Linked DNA regions of Homo sapiens. The protein of the gene in region 1 interacts with the protein of each later gene in a pairwise test. Each region holds a gene or a part of one and is shown in the gene's direction. Other genes may lie near its edges.

The links. Proteins that work in one complex are often made in the same cells at the same time.
Region 2: the proteins of MYLIP (region 1) and LNX2 interact in binary tests that used the Homo sapiens proteins (3 or more experiments, as listed by UniProt).

Annotation. Positions count from the first base shown.
Region 1 is NC_000006.12:16,138,041-16,146,440, forward strand, and holds part of MYLIP (E3 ubiquitin-protein ligase MYLIP), read left to right. Parts: intron 1-3,515; exon of another isoform or gene 3,516-3,584; coding exon 3,585-3,770; intron 3,771-4,979; coding exon 4,980-5,177; intron 5,178-5,658; coding exon 5,659-5,823; intron 5,824-6,856; coding exon 6,857-7,277; intron 7,278-8,400. UniProt on the Homo sapiens protein: E3 ubiquitin-protein ligase that mediates ubiquitination and subsequent proteasomal degradation of myosin regulatory light chain (MRLC), LDLR, VLDLR and LRP8. Activity depends on E2 enzymes of the UBE2D family.
Region 2 is NC_000013.11:27,560,830-27,568,529, reverse strand, and holds part of LNX2 (ligand of Numb protein X 2), read left to right. Parts: intron 1-690; coding exon 691-890; intron 891-5,748; coding exon 5,749-6,117; intron 6,118-7,700.

The DNA of each region.
Region 1 (8,400 bases):
AGAGTCATGAATTAGAAGGTATAACCCGAAGAATGTTTAAAAGGTGCAGTTTGAGCTTATTTATGCTCATAGGATGTATTCATGGACATTTCCTTAAGACAGAGAAAACAGTTTTTTTCCAAAGGCTTTCTTTCTGTTTGTGATTCTAGGATGTAGCCTCTATTGAATTGAATATGTCATCTACTTTTGATCTTTAGTGCAAAAGCATTCACTGCAGGCATAACTTATTTGACCACATCTGCTTGTTTTGATATTATTGGTAACATTTTGCCTACTTTACAAAAAAAAAAAGGAGGGGGCAAAACCCAGGAGCCAGATAGTTACAATCCAGATGGTTTGAGGGGAAAATACTAAGAGAAAATACTTGATTCAAAACCACCCATAAATATTGAGCCATCACTGAAGTTCTTGTTGGAAACATGTCTCTGAGCTCTGCTATCCTCTGTCTTGGAAAGAGCCTATTAGAGTGCTGATCTTTGCTACTAGTACTCTGTTGTACTGTTCTCCTGGAGAGCATAAACTTGTCACCCAAAAGCTAGATTGTGGCTGGAGTTATTTTGATGGGATATGTCCCTTTATTGTAAAAGGCTGTAAGTCCATCTAAAAAGGAACTCTCAGACATGTTTACCCTAAAACCCCAGCTTAGGGCTGGGCACAGAGGCGGTGCAAGACAAATATTTATTGGCTTGAAATGAAAAGGTTGCTTTATAGCCATGAAACTGCAAAATGCAGGAAGGGACTATCAGAAAGCTGATGTTGACAGTAAGGAGAAGGATTTTTCATGCTTACCAGGCATCCTCTGCACTCCAGGCTAGAATGTGGAGTATGTCGAAAAGGTCAATCATCGCCCTTGCTAGATCTTTTCTTAAATTCTGGCCCATATGCTGAGAAGGATCAGTGGTGCTCTCAGGCTGCCTGCCACCTGTTTACATTCTGTTACTGCTTCTTTGCCTTTGATTTTGGCCACTGTCTCTCCGGAAGTGTAGGCATGGATAGGTTGCAAAAAGACACGGAATTGATTCAAAACTCTTCTTACTATCTAATAAAGCAGGAACTAGTCTCTAACTTTACACCTGAAAAATAAGTTAAAAGCCACTTTTGCCTGTAATCCCAGCACTTTGGGAGGCCGAGGCAGGCAGATCATGAGGTCAGGAGATTGAGACCATCCTGGCTAACACGGTGAAACCCCGTCTCTAATAAAAATACAAAAATTAGACAGGCATGGTCTAATGTAGCTATCGGGAGGCCGAGGCAGGAGAATCGCTTGAACCCAGGAGGCGGAGCTTGCAGTGAGCCCAGATCGTGCCATAGCACTCCAGCCTGGGCGACAGAGCAAGACTCCATCTCAAAAAAAAAAAAAAAGGCCACTTTTACATAAGCAGTAATTAAACTAAGAAGACTTCGTTTGTGGCAATATTCTTCAAGTCTTTCAGAGCGTAATTTCTTCTTTAACGAAAGCATAGATGCAGATTTTAGTTTCCTAACAGCACACCTCCACCCCAGTCGAATACAGAGATGGGTACATTCACCAAGATGAAGTTTATCAAATGGTCATCTAAGAAGCCTTTTGAGGCCTGCAACAGTGTAGTAAACCACGGCTTGCTGAGAATGCTGGATCTCAGTCCTCAGATAGCTATTTTACAGCAAATTATTTTCATGGTGATTCCTTTGCCCCAGTGGGGGCTCCTTTCTCAGTTTAGCAGTATGTCAGAAATACTTTAAAGATTAGCAGATGTTTGGGTTAATAAAAACCATCTTTATCTTCTTTGAGGCTATTACACATTCTTACTATGATTTCTTTACACGGGCTTTGAAAAAAAGAAAAAACTGCAGTATTTGGCAGAGTTTCATCATTTTAAATATTTCTTTATCATTATAGAATGCACAAAACATTGAATTTAAATACTTCTTAGTGAAAATAAGATTAATGGCTCTTGTCAGCCAGACATTGTAGACTCTCAGTATAGCACCTCCTTAGATTTGTAGCCTCACTGCCTCCTCCTTAGTCGATTCTTACCTTGCTCATGTTCCTCTACCTGGAATGTCAGACACAGATATATTATTAAACAGAAACAGTGCTGAGGACATCGCACCTGGCCAAAGTTACAATTCATTTGTTAATGGGACGAATAATGTGGCAATTAGCCTTGTTTGAGAGGTTATGACAAGTCATCGAAGGAAGGTTAAAACTTCACATTTGCCAGGGACACTTGTTATAACTGAGGCCAATCTGTCTACAGCAGTTTAGGTGCTCTTCAGAGTTTTGGGCAGTGTGACCAGTATCTGAATTTTACAGGAGTTTTTAAGTGTGACATAACCTTTTAGTAAATGTAGAATATAGTATTGTATACAACTAGGATGGGCTTAAACAGGATGAAACTAAGGTTGGAAGGTAAACTAATCACACATAATATGCAGTTTTATGTACATTTTTGGAGCTCTCTGATGTTCGAGGCACTTAAGAAGTCATACATAATATACATGTTATGTCAAATACTGTACCAGAGGAATAGAGGATTTGCATGTGATACAGACCAAAGGGTATCCAAGCAAGGCGACAGAAAGAATGGCCCTCAGGACAGAGGGAGCAGCAAGACCAGAGACACCAGAGCATGAACATGCTTCCTAGATTTCCCAGGGAGAGGAATCGTTCCCTATCCTGGGGCATAGCAGCTGCAGGGAATGACAGGAGACGTGGCTGGAAAGCTGGGGCCAGATGGCGGAGACTCCTCAGCTCCACGTTAACAACGTGCTCCCTTGGCAAGCCGTACAGATCCTTTGAAGGATTTTGAGCAGAGAAATGACAAGTTTATACTAGAAACAAGCAGCATGGAAGGTAGGCTGCCTGCATGGAGTCTGGAGGAGGAGAGCAGCGCAGAGAATAGTGTAAATTCTTCCTGCAAGTAGTATTGAGGAGGTACAAATGGGAGGATAGAACTGGATTTAAATAGTTTTCAGAGAGAAGAAAGTCAAGTGAAATAGGACAAAGAGTCCAAAGTCAGTCCGTGGTCTCCATTCGGAGAAAAAGGGCTTGGGAAAGAATATATGGAGTTTGGTTTTGAATGAGCCAAAATTGAGGTACCGAAGAACATCCAGGTGGTGAAGCCTATAGGAGATTGGACATTTTTCATGTGATTCTTAGGACAGAAGCTGGCACTGAGACTAGAGATTGGGGTATCATTTGAATAAAGGTGAGAATTTTGTCTTTATGTATAGAGTTCCTTAAGATTCTATCAGAATCCATGTCAAGATACAATTTTTCTGATTAAAATAATTTCTTTTAAAACACTATAATGCAGAAACTTATGTGTAATTATTTTATGTTTTGTAACCTTAATGTTACCGAACTTGTGTTAAATAAGTTTATCTTGTTTGGGTCACAACTTTTATTCCAGAGAAACGCAGTTCTTATTTTGATTTTGCCTTAATACTGATGATTTTTTTTTGAAGTTCTTTAATGTTAAGCATTTTCAGTGTGACTTTTAAAATTGCTTTCCTTAAAAGTGACTGTGAAATTGCTAAGTAGGCTGAGATTGATGTCAGGTTATCCCCAAGCATAACCTCACTCTCACCTTGCTTTGCAGGCATATCTTTTTCTTGCACATCAAGGAGGCCCTCTTGGCAGGCCACCTCTTGTGTTCCCCAGAGCAGGCAGTGGAACTCAGTGCCCTCCTGGCCCAGACCAAGTTTGGAGACTACAACCAGAACACTGCCAAGTATAACTATGAGGAGCTCTGTGCCAAGGAGCTCTCCTCTGCCACCTTGAACAGGTGAGGCTGTTGAATATAGTATTGTTTACAACTAGAATAGGCTTAAACAGGATGAAACTAAGGTTGGAAGGTAAACTAATCACACATAATATGCAGTTTTATGTACATTTTTGAGCTCTCTGATGTTCGAGGCACTTAAGAAGTCATACATAATATACATGTTATGTCAAATACTGTACCAGAGGAATAGAGGATTTGCATGTGATACAGACCAAAGGGTATCCAAGCAAGGGGACAGAAAGAATGGCCATCAGGACAGAGGGAGCAGCAAGACCAGAGACACCAGAGCATGAACATGGCAGCATCAGGGCTACTGCATATATTCATAGAGCTATCAAATGTATAAGCATTTCCAAAAGAAGATGAATCTGTGGTACATACACATAATTTGTGAAGTTAAGACTGGGCCATTGCCCAATTTAACCAAATATTTTCAAAAAATTTGTTAGCCTTTTATTTGAAAAATATGTAAACACAATATGAAATGCTATATAAAATGGGAATTTTTTAAATCTGTGCCTTTAAGTACAAATCTCCTAAAATAAAAAATCTATTATGTATATTGGTGTTTTCTTCATCCCAGCAAGAATTAAACCAGGAGATCTAACATAGGCATTTTAGTTATCTATTCCTGCATAACAAGTTACCCCAAAACTTAGTGACATAAAACAACAAAAATTGTCTCACAGTTCTGTAGGTCAGGAATCTGGCCATGTCTTGGCTGGGTCCTCTGGCTCATGAGACTGTAGTCAAGCTGCAGGTAGAACTCTGTCTCATCTGAAGGCTCGACTGAGGGTGGCCTCCATGCCAGGTTGACTCCTGTGGTTTGTTGGCCTACCTCCTTCCCTGGCCACAGGGGCCTCAGGGGTCAACTTTATACTTATAAACTATATGTGGACAAATGCATGAGACTTTCCAATATGTAAATTTGACTTATGTATATTTTTAGAGACTTTCCATAATTCTTCCAATTCATCACCCATCCAGCATCCCCAAAGTGTTTTTACCAAGTATTTAATAGTTGAGATCCCAGTGTCTTAGACGTTTTTTATAGTAAGTTCGCTAAATACATGAAACATCAGTAATACATAAGTTTTAAGTTGTTGTGATTCATCAGTGTTAGTATATTTCACTCGTGAAGACTACATAGGTTTATCTCTAAAGCTAATATCTGTATACTTAATTCTCTGTCCTCTTGGTGTCCTCCAGCATTGTTGCAAAACATAAGGAGTTGGAGGGGACCAGCCAGGCTTCAGCTGAATACCAAGTTTTGCAGATTGTGTCGGCAATGGAAAACTATGGCATAGAATGGCATTCTGTGCGGGATAGCGAAGGGCAGAAACTGCTCATTGGGGTTGGACCTGAAGGAATCTCAATTTGTAAAGATGACTTTAGCCCAATTAATAGGTAAGCCAAGACTTAACTTTTTTTGACCTAAGCATGTGTATACATCTGTAGCTGTCAATGTAATAGAAAATAGGAAGGGATTTACTCGACAGTCAGCTCTTAGGAATGAAAGATTTCATTTTGGTATGTACATTAATTTTATTCAGGCCTAAATAACCATTTTAAATGTTATTCAAGGTATACAATGTGGCAGAGTTAACGTTTTCCAAATAACCCATTCACTGCCATAAAAAACTTGTTTTCAGCTCTAGACATGCATGTGCGCACACCCAGCACTTGCTCCCATACTTCCCTCCACATATGCCCAACTGCTTTTCACTGTATCTTTACAATAAGGCAGCATTATGGTGATGTGATAACCCCAGAGGAAGCGTCTGATTTTTCTGCTAGGTCATGAGCAAATGGGGATCCCACAAAGGCACACACATGGTGAAGAATCACTCCTTCTAGATCTGCTTTCTTTTCTCTTCCTGTCTCTTAGGATAGCTTATCCTGTGGTGCAGATGGCCACCCAGTCAGGAAAGAATGTATATTTGACGGTCACCAAGGAATCTGGGAACAGCATCGTGCTCTTGTTTAAAATGATCAGCACCAGGGCGGCCAGCGGGCTCTACCGAGCGATAACAGAGACGCACGCATTCTACAGGCACGTATCTCGTGTGCTTGGTCACCTCAGCACCACAGCTCTCAGGTTTTTAGGTGACAACCAGGTTTCTACGGTTCCTTGGATTGTTGTGTCAATGAGTCTAGTACAGAATTTAAGAAATTCTGAACATTTTGTTTCCGTAGTAGCAGTGGAGTCCTTATTAATGTAGTCTTGTTTTACCCACAGAAGGTGCATGTGTGTGAGCTGCACAAACACATTCTCTGCTTACCTCCTACCGTATTCTCTTATGCCATTAATCTAGACACAAAGTGTGTTAGGAGATTTCTATGCCTATTTAATCAATACAACAACCCTAAGGGGTTATTATTACCCTAATGTTAAAGATGAGGGAACTGGGAGGATAATTATTTACTTAGTCTAGGACTCAGCTTCAAAGCCAAGTTTGATTACCCTAAAGGTAACCCTGAGGGACTGGGCCTGCTCCACTGCTCAGGAGAAGGATAGCACAGATCATCTTTTCTTTCTGGCAGAGCTGCTATCCTGAGTCGTCACTGTGTATGGAAGGATTTTTTAATAGCAATATTGATTCCCTCATTTCAGAGGGTACTTTAAAGCCAAGTTGTGATTGGACTCACGTATTTGGACAATTAAAGCTAAGAAATTTAAGTCGTAGACAACTTTAAACTTTTTTATTTTAAAATAGATACACAAATTGTGAAACAGGATGGGAAATTTTTAGACATTTCTAACCTAAAAGCCAAGACTTCAGGCAGATGCCCTTTTTCTTCCATAAGCAACTTCACTCAGTAGCGTCTGTCCTGGGGAGGAGGTACGTGCTCACTGCCCTCTGTATTTACTGCTTTACGGAAGCCATAATGTCAGGAGATGTTAGAGAAACAGAGGTGTAATCACTGAGAATATTTACCAGACGTAAAACTGGAAGGACTTACTTTCATACATGCAGACGAGACTATGAAACATCTGCTGACATTTCTGTTCTTATTGACAACAGCGAATAAGGGTGCTGCCAGGCTCTTTGGTGTTAAAGTAGATGTTCAATCTTGCCTTGCAGGTGTGACACAGTGACCAGCGCCGTGATGATGCAGTATAGCCGTGACTTGAAGGGCCACTTGGCATCTCTGTTTCTGAATGAAAACATTAACCTTGGCAAGAAATATGTCTTTGATATTAAAAGAACATCAAAGGAGGTGTATGACCATGCCAGGAGGGCTCTGTACAATGCTGGCGTTGTGGACCTCGTTTCAAGAAACAACCAGAGCCCTTCACACTCGCCTCTGAAGTCCTCAGAAAGCAGCATGAACTGCAGCAGCTGCGAGGGCCTCAGCTGCCAGCAGACCCGGGTGCTGCAGGAGAAGCTACGCAAGCTGAAGGAAGCCATGCTGTGCATGGTGTGCTGCGAGGAGGAGATCAACTCCACCTTCTGTCCCTGTGGCCACACTGTGTGCTGTGAGAGCTGCGCCGCCCAGCTACAGGTAGGGGAGTCAGCTGCCCACTTTTGCCTGCAGCCTCACCTATCCCTCCTCTTAACGGGGAGTAGGAGCCAGGTACTGGCTCGCTAATGCACAGACGGGGAATGCCCATCTTCACCCGGAAAGGGTCTTTGTATTTGGTGACCTAAAAGGCATTGCCCTTTAGAAACATTTTAGATTAGCATACTATTTTCAACAACATAATTACTCCAAATTATGCAGTGTTTTCAAGTTCTGAAAATGAGGCTGAGATTCCTGGGTAACATATCTAGTTAGCGGCTTACCTGAGGACAAGAATCCAGGCCTCCTGAGGCCTGGCCCAGGGCTGCTTCCTCTATTTCAAGTTGCCTCCCTTTTTCTGACACTTAGGAGGATGGTCTTTATTACTTAAGATATTTGGGAAAGAATACTTCTCAATTATCCATGGATGGGTTGTTGACTCTGTGATATTGGTGATTAATTTCCTTTTATGATTGCAAATGCCTCAAGGGCATATGGGTTGGCTGTTATTTATTAGCAAGTCAAACTAATTTTAATATTAACACGAAAAAGAGAACTCACATATAGTTTTCTTCCTTTCTTGCATGAAGAAGAATTTTAAATTTCCTCTTACAAGTTTTTTCAATTTGTTTTTATTTCTCAGATGTGTTTGCCAAATGTCACTGTGGTTTTATGTAAAACTGGTTCTAGATAATACTTAGTCCTTCAGAAGCTGCTAATTTCAGAGCTAATAAGACCAAATGACCCCTGTGTCCTTTCCCCAGAAGCAGTCATAGGCTTGTCTTTTTCTGCCCACCTATTCTGACTCTCATCCCTAAGTCTCTCCTGAGGGCTGATGATGGGCACGGGCTTTCTGAGAAGTCAGCCAGGAATGTGGAGCTGCCACCTACGGCTAGAAGCAGAGCCACCCTCCCTGGCCATGTGGGCATCAGCCCAGAAATGTTGGCCTGAGTCAGTCAGCTGAGCTAAGGACACACAATTTCAAGAAGGGTCTCCTGCATTGCTGCCTGAAGTGTTATAGTCTACTCATGTAGAGACCACATTCTGCACAGAAAGACGTCTTCAGTAATTGCTTTATTCAATGTACCTTCTTTAGCGTTTCACTAAAAATGTAATTAATTTCCTT
Region 2 (7,700 bases), on another chromosome or scaffold:
ATACAACCAGTAAATGACTGGGTTTGTATTTGACTCCAAGACCATGCATCTCACCGTTATACACCTCTGGTACCAGCCACTGCTCTGTTACCCACTAGGAAGTTAACAGAAGGCCCGTAGTCATGGATCTTGGGCATATCATGGTAGTGGGCCCTTGATATTTCCTTTTAAAAATGATTTTCTTTTTCCAAGCTCTACTACAAATTTGAATTTTCCTTGCCGCAACTATGCGCCTTCTTCATTTCCTACGTCTCCGTTCAAGACCCACCTCTTCTTACGAGCTTGATGTGGCTACTCTCTCAACACCTGTGCTGTTTCTATGCCACAGAGCTAGTGTTTCCTTTGTACTGCCTCTCATTATGTACAGTTGTTTCGTGGTCCAAATTTTCTCTCATCAATGAGGACAGAATGACTTTCTTTTCATATTTCTTAATCAGATCACTGTGTCGTCCCTAGTGATCTGATACATAGTAGCTATTTATTATTTACTGATCAGTTTTAGTAGAGAAAATTTTTAGATAATCTTAACAACAGATATTTTGTCATTTTGTTTCTTATCCAGTGATACTGCTTAGCTGTTAATCATGTATTAATGTGACATACTTACCTGAAGATAATCAGAATATAAATTGTTGGGTTTGTTTATTTTTTTAACATCTGTTTTTGTCTGTCTCATTTTTAACTTGGCAGCCACACAACAGCCACTTAGTTTACCAGAAGGAGAAATCACCACGATTGAAATTCATCGGTCCAATCCTTACATTCAGTTAGGAATCAGCATTGTGGGTGGCAACGAAACACCTTTGATTAACATTGTCATCCAGGAGGTCTATCGGGATGGGGTCATTGCCAGAGACGGGAGACTTCTTGCTGGAGACCAGATTCTTCAGGTATCAGTTTTAATTATTCTGTTAACTTGTGCCTTTTTGTTCCATTCTTAACACTTAAACCTTAGAAAATTGTGCTGTTTTGGAACCTAAATTATATATAGATTAGTTTTACTGTTTCTATATGCAAAACATCAGAATTTATGTGTAATTTGTGGTATTTTCCCATATACACAGAGTATTTTTTCTTCCTATCTTAATTTTCATTCCTGCATGCGATGTGGCTTGGCACATGATCTCAGGCTTGCTGAGCTAGCTAGACTCTTCCTTGGGCTGACTAGCCTCTTCCTGCTTGGACTTCTTGAATGACTGTTCAAGGGTCACCTTCATCCATGTTGAAATTATCATCTCATTGGTATTATTTTATACCCAGTTTTCCCATTCATTACCTTCATTGTTGGATTTATCCTTTTCTATACAGACTACTAAAATCTAGAAAAGAAGGAACCATGCAGCACTCATAATTTATACCACAGATTATAAGATAGAGTTCAGAAATCTTGCAGTCATCTCCTATCAACTCCCTAATGCACTCTCCTCAGCAAACACTCTAACTCTGCATTTTCAATAATCCCCTTCGCTCCCCTTACTGTTTTCCCTTTCAGAAGATGATCTTTAAGAAGAAACAGGTATTCTCCAGAAATAACTAGCATGGGACAAGATATTTTATTAGAGGGCAAGTTGAGATGAGGGGAGGAGGATGGTAAGAGTTCTACAATCCCGGAGTTGATGTTAATACCGGCCTGGACCATTTTCATCATACAAAGGTGATAATAATTGAAGCTTAAAAACGGATAACTTCTAGGAGAGAGAGGAAATATTCATGAACAAGAAAAAATGTCTCCTGTCAACCCAAGCGCAGGGACTCCTCTCTCTCCTTGGATTTGTGGTTCGGTCCTTCACCATGACCTGTTGATATCTACCCCCTACTTCCATTTTCCTGCCACTTCTTGAGTCTAGGACTTCTCTTCTTCATATCTAATTTAGTAGAATACCCCATCATATACTTCTGCCTCCCAACTCTCCTCCCTTAAATCTGAAACAATCACTGCCAGGTTAATACATCAGTAACCCTGCTTGCCTTGCAAAGGTTCAACTAGGAGGTCAAGTCCAGACTGATTAATCTAATAGTCAGGGTCCTCCACGGTCTCTTCTACAACCTGTCTTGTTAATCTCAATTCTTCATTTCAGGCACACCAGCTCATTCATTTCTCACAACATTCTAGGCACTATACTAGTTGCTGGTGGTACATTTCAGAGCAAAATACTGACCTGTCCTCGTGGAATATACAATCTAGTGGAAGAGCCAGACATAGCAGTCTTCTTCCTTCCCTGCAAACACCTTATTCCCACATTGCAGCCTGTCCTCATCTCATGAGCCAGTTTGTTCACCTTCATCCTTAAAGCTTTTGTTCAGCCATTCTCCCCCATACTGATTCCTCCTACATTAGTTATTATTGGCATTCATCACTTTTCTCTTCATCACTTGGCACGTGATGAGTTACAGAGAATTGTTTGAACATTTTACGTATGTAGGCATGATCTAAGGTAATTGCAACCACCCTAATGGTACAGATTATGATACAGATTTCTCATAGCTTGTAGTAAGTGCTCAGAAAATATTTGCTGAGTCAATAAAAGAGTGAATTTGAATATAAGATGCTGTTGGGAATAGCCATCTCCTTTATTAAAAGAAAAACTTGGTTAGGATTTTTAGTTGTTGAAAAGAAATCTCTAGACTTGGGGCTATGGGAGTCTACAAAGGCAGCCAGGATTGACCCTACTAGGGATTCTTGGGTTTGATTTCCACTCCCGCTTGTATGCTGCTTTTCATGGTGTATTATTCCTGAAAATAATTAACACCAAGCCTAAAACCTTTCCTTCATTACCCCTAGGCATGGCTGAGACAGACTGAGCTTTCAAACAGTGTTTTTTTTACCAAATACTTAGATGTAATAGACGAATACAGGAACATAACTAATCCAGCTCATATAAAATCAGATTTCTGATCCTGTCATAGCTAGCTATTTAGTTATCCTAGCTGCATTTTATGATATTAGTACTTTAGCTGCACAGGCTGGCACAACTTGTAGGACCCCTTGTATTATTTACATCCTAGCTCCTGACTTGATTTTGCAGAGAGCGACTCTTACAGCTCATTTCCCAGGTTCATCCTCCCAGACATCTTGACACTTTGGTGGTCAGGACCAGGAAGGGCAGATAGTCCTTTTCTGCAGCCCACTGAGTGTTCTTTGACTCTCCCACTTCTGGGCTTTTTAGCTGAAATGTAAGTGTACACTTATTTTTTGCTACTAGCCCAGTATTGTTACAAATGTTTTTATTTATATTTCTTTGAATATAACAGATTTGTTTAAGTTTTTTTACTAATACATTTCATCAGTGGGCTTGTTTCTATTTTAGAGAATGGTTCATTAACACTACTGAATCTTTAGACCTCAAAAGATTGTAATTATCTGAAATTATCAACCATATTTTTGGGAATTAATTCAGTTATAAAGTCTACATTGTAGAAATTCCACTGCATTATTACTGTTTATGGAAACCTGTATACTAATAACTCCAATAATGGCAATCTTACATCTAGTTTAATGATTCAAATTGATAAGAAAAGTCTGAGCACATAATCTGATTAATGAATTCACAAAGGGTCTCTCCTATTATAGGCCCTGACTTCTGGTTGGCTTTTAACTGGTGTGTTGGAGCCAAGTAAAGCCACCCCCCTTTCCCACATATGGACTATTTATGGTTATTCAAGAGTAAACACTTGGAAAGAGGCCTATTGGTATTTTTTACTATCTGGTTACCTCCAACTTTGTATAAGCTAAATAAATATAACACAGTGAGCCAATTTGAAAATCTCGAAGAGGCAGTAAGATGGTTGATTTGCAGACCAGAGAGCTAGCTTGCATTTTCATTTTTGCAGACCATATACATAAGCAGTGTGTGGCTTTGGTGGTTTTCCCACATTTATATATATTTATTTACATATACAAATGTTATTAAATAGCCTCTTTGAAAAGGAGAACCATATGCTGTTAGAGCTTTTTGCTACTCTTAGAGTTTCATATGCAGCCTCTTTGAGCAGTTTTGAAGAAAAAAAAATACTGCTATTATAAATTACCTCAATATCATTAATAAAAGTAATATAACTTAGAACATTATTAAGAATAAGTATTTTCAGTTTAATGAAGTCATCAATAATGGCATTTTCAGTTCTGAAGGAAAATAATTACAGCTGTTGATTGATAAAAAAATACATTTAGCTCAAAAATGAGATAGTTTGCTATGCTGATGTTATTTTTACAAAATCTAGAAACAATATTTTATTTGGTTTCTGCTTTCTCTGAATTTCACTGGCAACCATGCATTCCTGGAGGAAAAATCTTTTTCCAGTTGTAGAATATTCCCCAGCCTGCTTCACAAAGATGTTATGAGGCTGCATGTTTACACATGGCTGGATTTTAGCCAGACGTTTTGTAAAGTCATTTGTGATATGTGTGATATGTCTGAATATAAGACAGAAAAATGTGAACCTACAGGTAGGTAGCTTTGTAGCTAAATAGTTGGAAATGGTGGTTTGACTAATGAATCTATATCTGCGTGGATTTTTAGAAGCTGCTTTCTAAATATAATAGAACTTCAGAAGTTCCATTCTTGACCCTGTATTATTCAATACTTTTACCAAGGACTTGGATGACTACCAAATTAATAGATGTTGCAGACTTGGGAGAAAGCAAGTTTGTGTGTGACATCTGTGCATTTGGTGACTGAATTCTGAAAGGTGTTAATAGGTCAAAATCAACAAAATTCAAAATAGTATTTACAACTATCAATCCTAAGTCAATAGGAAGAGGAAAGTCTTGCCTAATGTGGATTTGTGTGAAAAAGATGTAAGAATTTTAGGTGATCATAAACACCTAACTCAGAGCCTGTCATATAACAGATGGTCAGAGGATGTTGGTTTCATCTCAGACCGATTCAGAGAAGAACTCTAATTGTGATAAATGCTAAGAATCATGCTCATCTCTTGTAACTAAAGAAATAATTGAAGTTAGGTGTATTTTCTAAGTGCTGTTACATACCCAAGGATCAGTCACTATACTTTTTTTGAGATTATAAAGGTGAATACATAAATGTTATATGAGTATTGAATAATGCATTAGATATACATTATATTTTACTTTTAATGGTAAAAACCGTAATTACTTTTGCACCAACCTAATATTTCTGTGCTGAAGAATTAGAGTGAAATTACAATTAACCTGGTTTTCTTTCAGGTAAAAGTCACTTATCTAAAATAAGTTTGTATACCTGAAATGTGCTACTTTCCTTAAAATAACAATTTATTTTCTCTAGCTTAAGTGTATTTAATTTGGAAGAAGCAAATTTGTAATCTAGTAAAACTTAAATTTCTGTTCCACTAGAATTAGTATTTATTTCATTAGCACTTGCCCCATGTTAATCTGTTCATTCTCATACTGATCCCATGAAGTAAACACATTTTACAGATGAGGAGACTCATTCAGACAAGTTCTATAATTTGCCTAAGTTATCAGTTAGTAAATGGTAGTACCTAGGACTCTAATTCAAGACCGTCATTAAAGCCCGTGATCCTAGCTACTATTCTCTCCTTGATGCTAGTCACTGTAAGTTAATATTAGAAACTCTGTTTTTAAATGTCTTTAATGTGGTTTTCTTTGTAAATAATGATTGTATAGCATTCTCACCATACTTAGCACTCTCACAATACTTAGTTTCCTGTGGAAATGTCACATAAACATTCCTACAAATTGGAAAAATAAAAGGTTGTCACACTTCGGTCACAATTCTTTTTTTCTAGGTCAACAACTACAATATCAGCAATGTGTCCCATAACTATGCCCGAGCTGTCCTTTCCCAGCCCTGCAACACACTGCATCTTACTGTGCTTCGAGAGAGGCGCTTTGGCAACCGAGCACACAACCATTCTGATAGTAACTCTCCACGAGAAGAGATTTTCCAAGTGGCTCTTCATAAACGGGACTCTGGTGAACAGCTTGGCATTAAATTGGTGCGAAGGACAGATGAGCCAGGGGTTTTTATTCTTGACCTGTTGGAAGGGGGGTTGGCTGCCCAGGACGGCAGGCTAAGCAGCAATGACCGAGTGCTGGCCATCAATGGGCACGACCTGAAGTATGGAACTCCGGAGCTTGCTGCCCAGATTATTCAGGTAAACCCTCTTGGCCTTCATTCCAAAGGCTTGGCCGAAATGATCATATAGTAGTATTTGTTTTCACTGGCCAATAACATCAGAATTCAGGGGACATTTTATATTTCATTAGAAAATCGGGTGTGGCTACCTGAATTCTTTAAAATCCACACTAGTATAACTTCATTGGAGATAGTCTTTTCTAAAAACTATATCCCTGTGAATTTTGGGGATGGTTATTTACAGAGCGTAGGCTCTACTGTTTCACATTCATTTCTCATTTGGGTCCTGGGTTCTACTATTAAGCCAGATGTAGCAGATGATATGTCCACCTTTTAGAAGTGAGGAAAGGGAGGCTCAAAAGAGCTGTGATTACCAAGGATCTGACTTACCTGGTCTCTTAACTCCCTGTCAGGATCTATATAAATAGAGGAAGAATAACTCTTATCTCTATAGTGCTTTGTTGTTGTTTCTAAGGAATTCACAGTGTTTAAAATACATGATAAAATTTGTCCTCATAGCATCTTTGTGACATAAGTAAGGATAGTCATTATTAGAGAAAGAACATGTTTTTCATAAAAGCATGAAGATGGATAAGTTGGAAAGTCATCCAGAGGAGATCTATACATTCTGCAACATGCCATAGCATTTAATGATATGAGCAACTTCTACAGTGATAAGGGTGCAACAAAAAGATGTTTTTCTTAAAGTTAGCAAAACAAAACACTGTAAAGGAAACCAAGAATTATGTAATTGAGGATCAGGAAGTAGGGTAGGCCGATAGTCATTGAAGAATGTGTTTACAACACAGAATCAAATAACAATGAAAATTTAAGACTATAAGAAAATTCAAGTCTCAACTCTCTTTATTGTATTGAGAGGAGATTCTGATATTGGTCTAATTTCATAGACTTGAGGTTTAAAGAAATTGGATGCCTTAAAATTTCCTCAAATCAAAGGCAACATTAGGACCTATATCTGTGGGTATTAGCCAGCAGCTGCACCACTAAAACCCAGCTCATCTTGTAAGAGTGGAGATTAGTGGGAGGGAGGGGAGAAAAGAGGAGGAGGAAGAAGAAAGCTAATAGAGTTATAGCATCTGTTTGAGTAAAAGAGTCAAGTGAGAGGCCAGATCAATAAGATAGAAAATAATAGATGGACTATATGTATTTCAGGCAATGTTTAAATTATCTAATCTAGTTCATTCAATTGGATGATTCTAACTAAATTTCTAACCAAAATGTGAAAAATACAGATACACAGATAGAAAATGTATTTTAAATTGTCCGTGATCATATTTTATATTTGGATGTTATAAATAGTTTCAACGTATTTTGTGCTATAATTTTCTCCAAATAATGGAAAACTAAAGTTGCTCTGTTTCTTTTTGAAAATAAGTAAAAGCGTTATTGTTTTTGGATTTTAAAAAATAACATATACTCCATGTCTTAAAAGGAGACCAATAGTAAATGATTTTAGTAAGGCATTAAACTTGTTTCTTACTTCTTTTCTAATGTAAGATTTGAAAATAAAGTGATTTCTTAACATTATTGACTATAATCATGGGAGAGGTCTCCACTTTGTACCACAATTTCTTTAAAGCA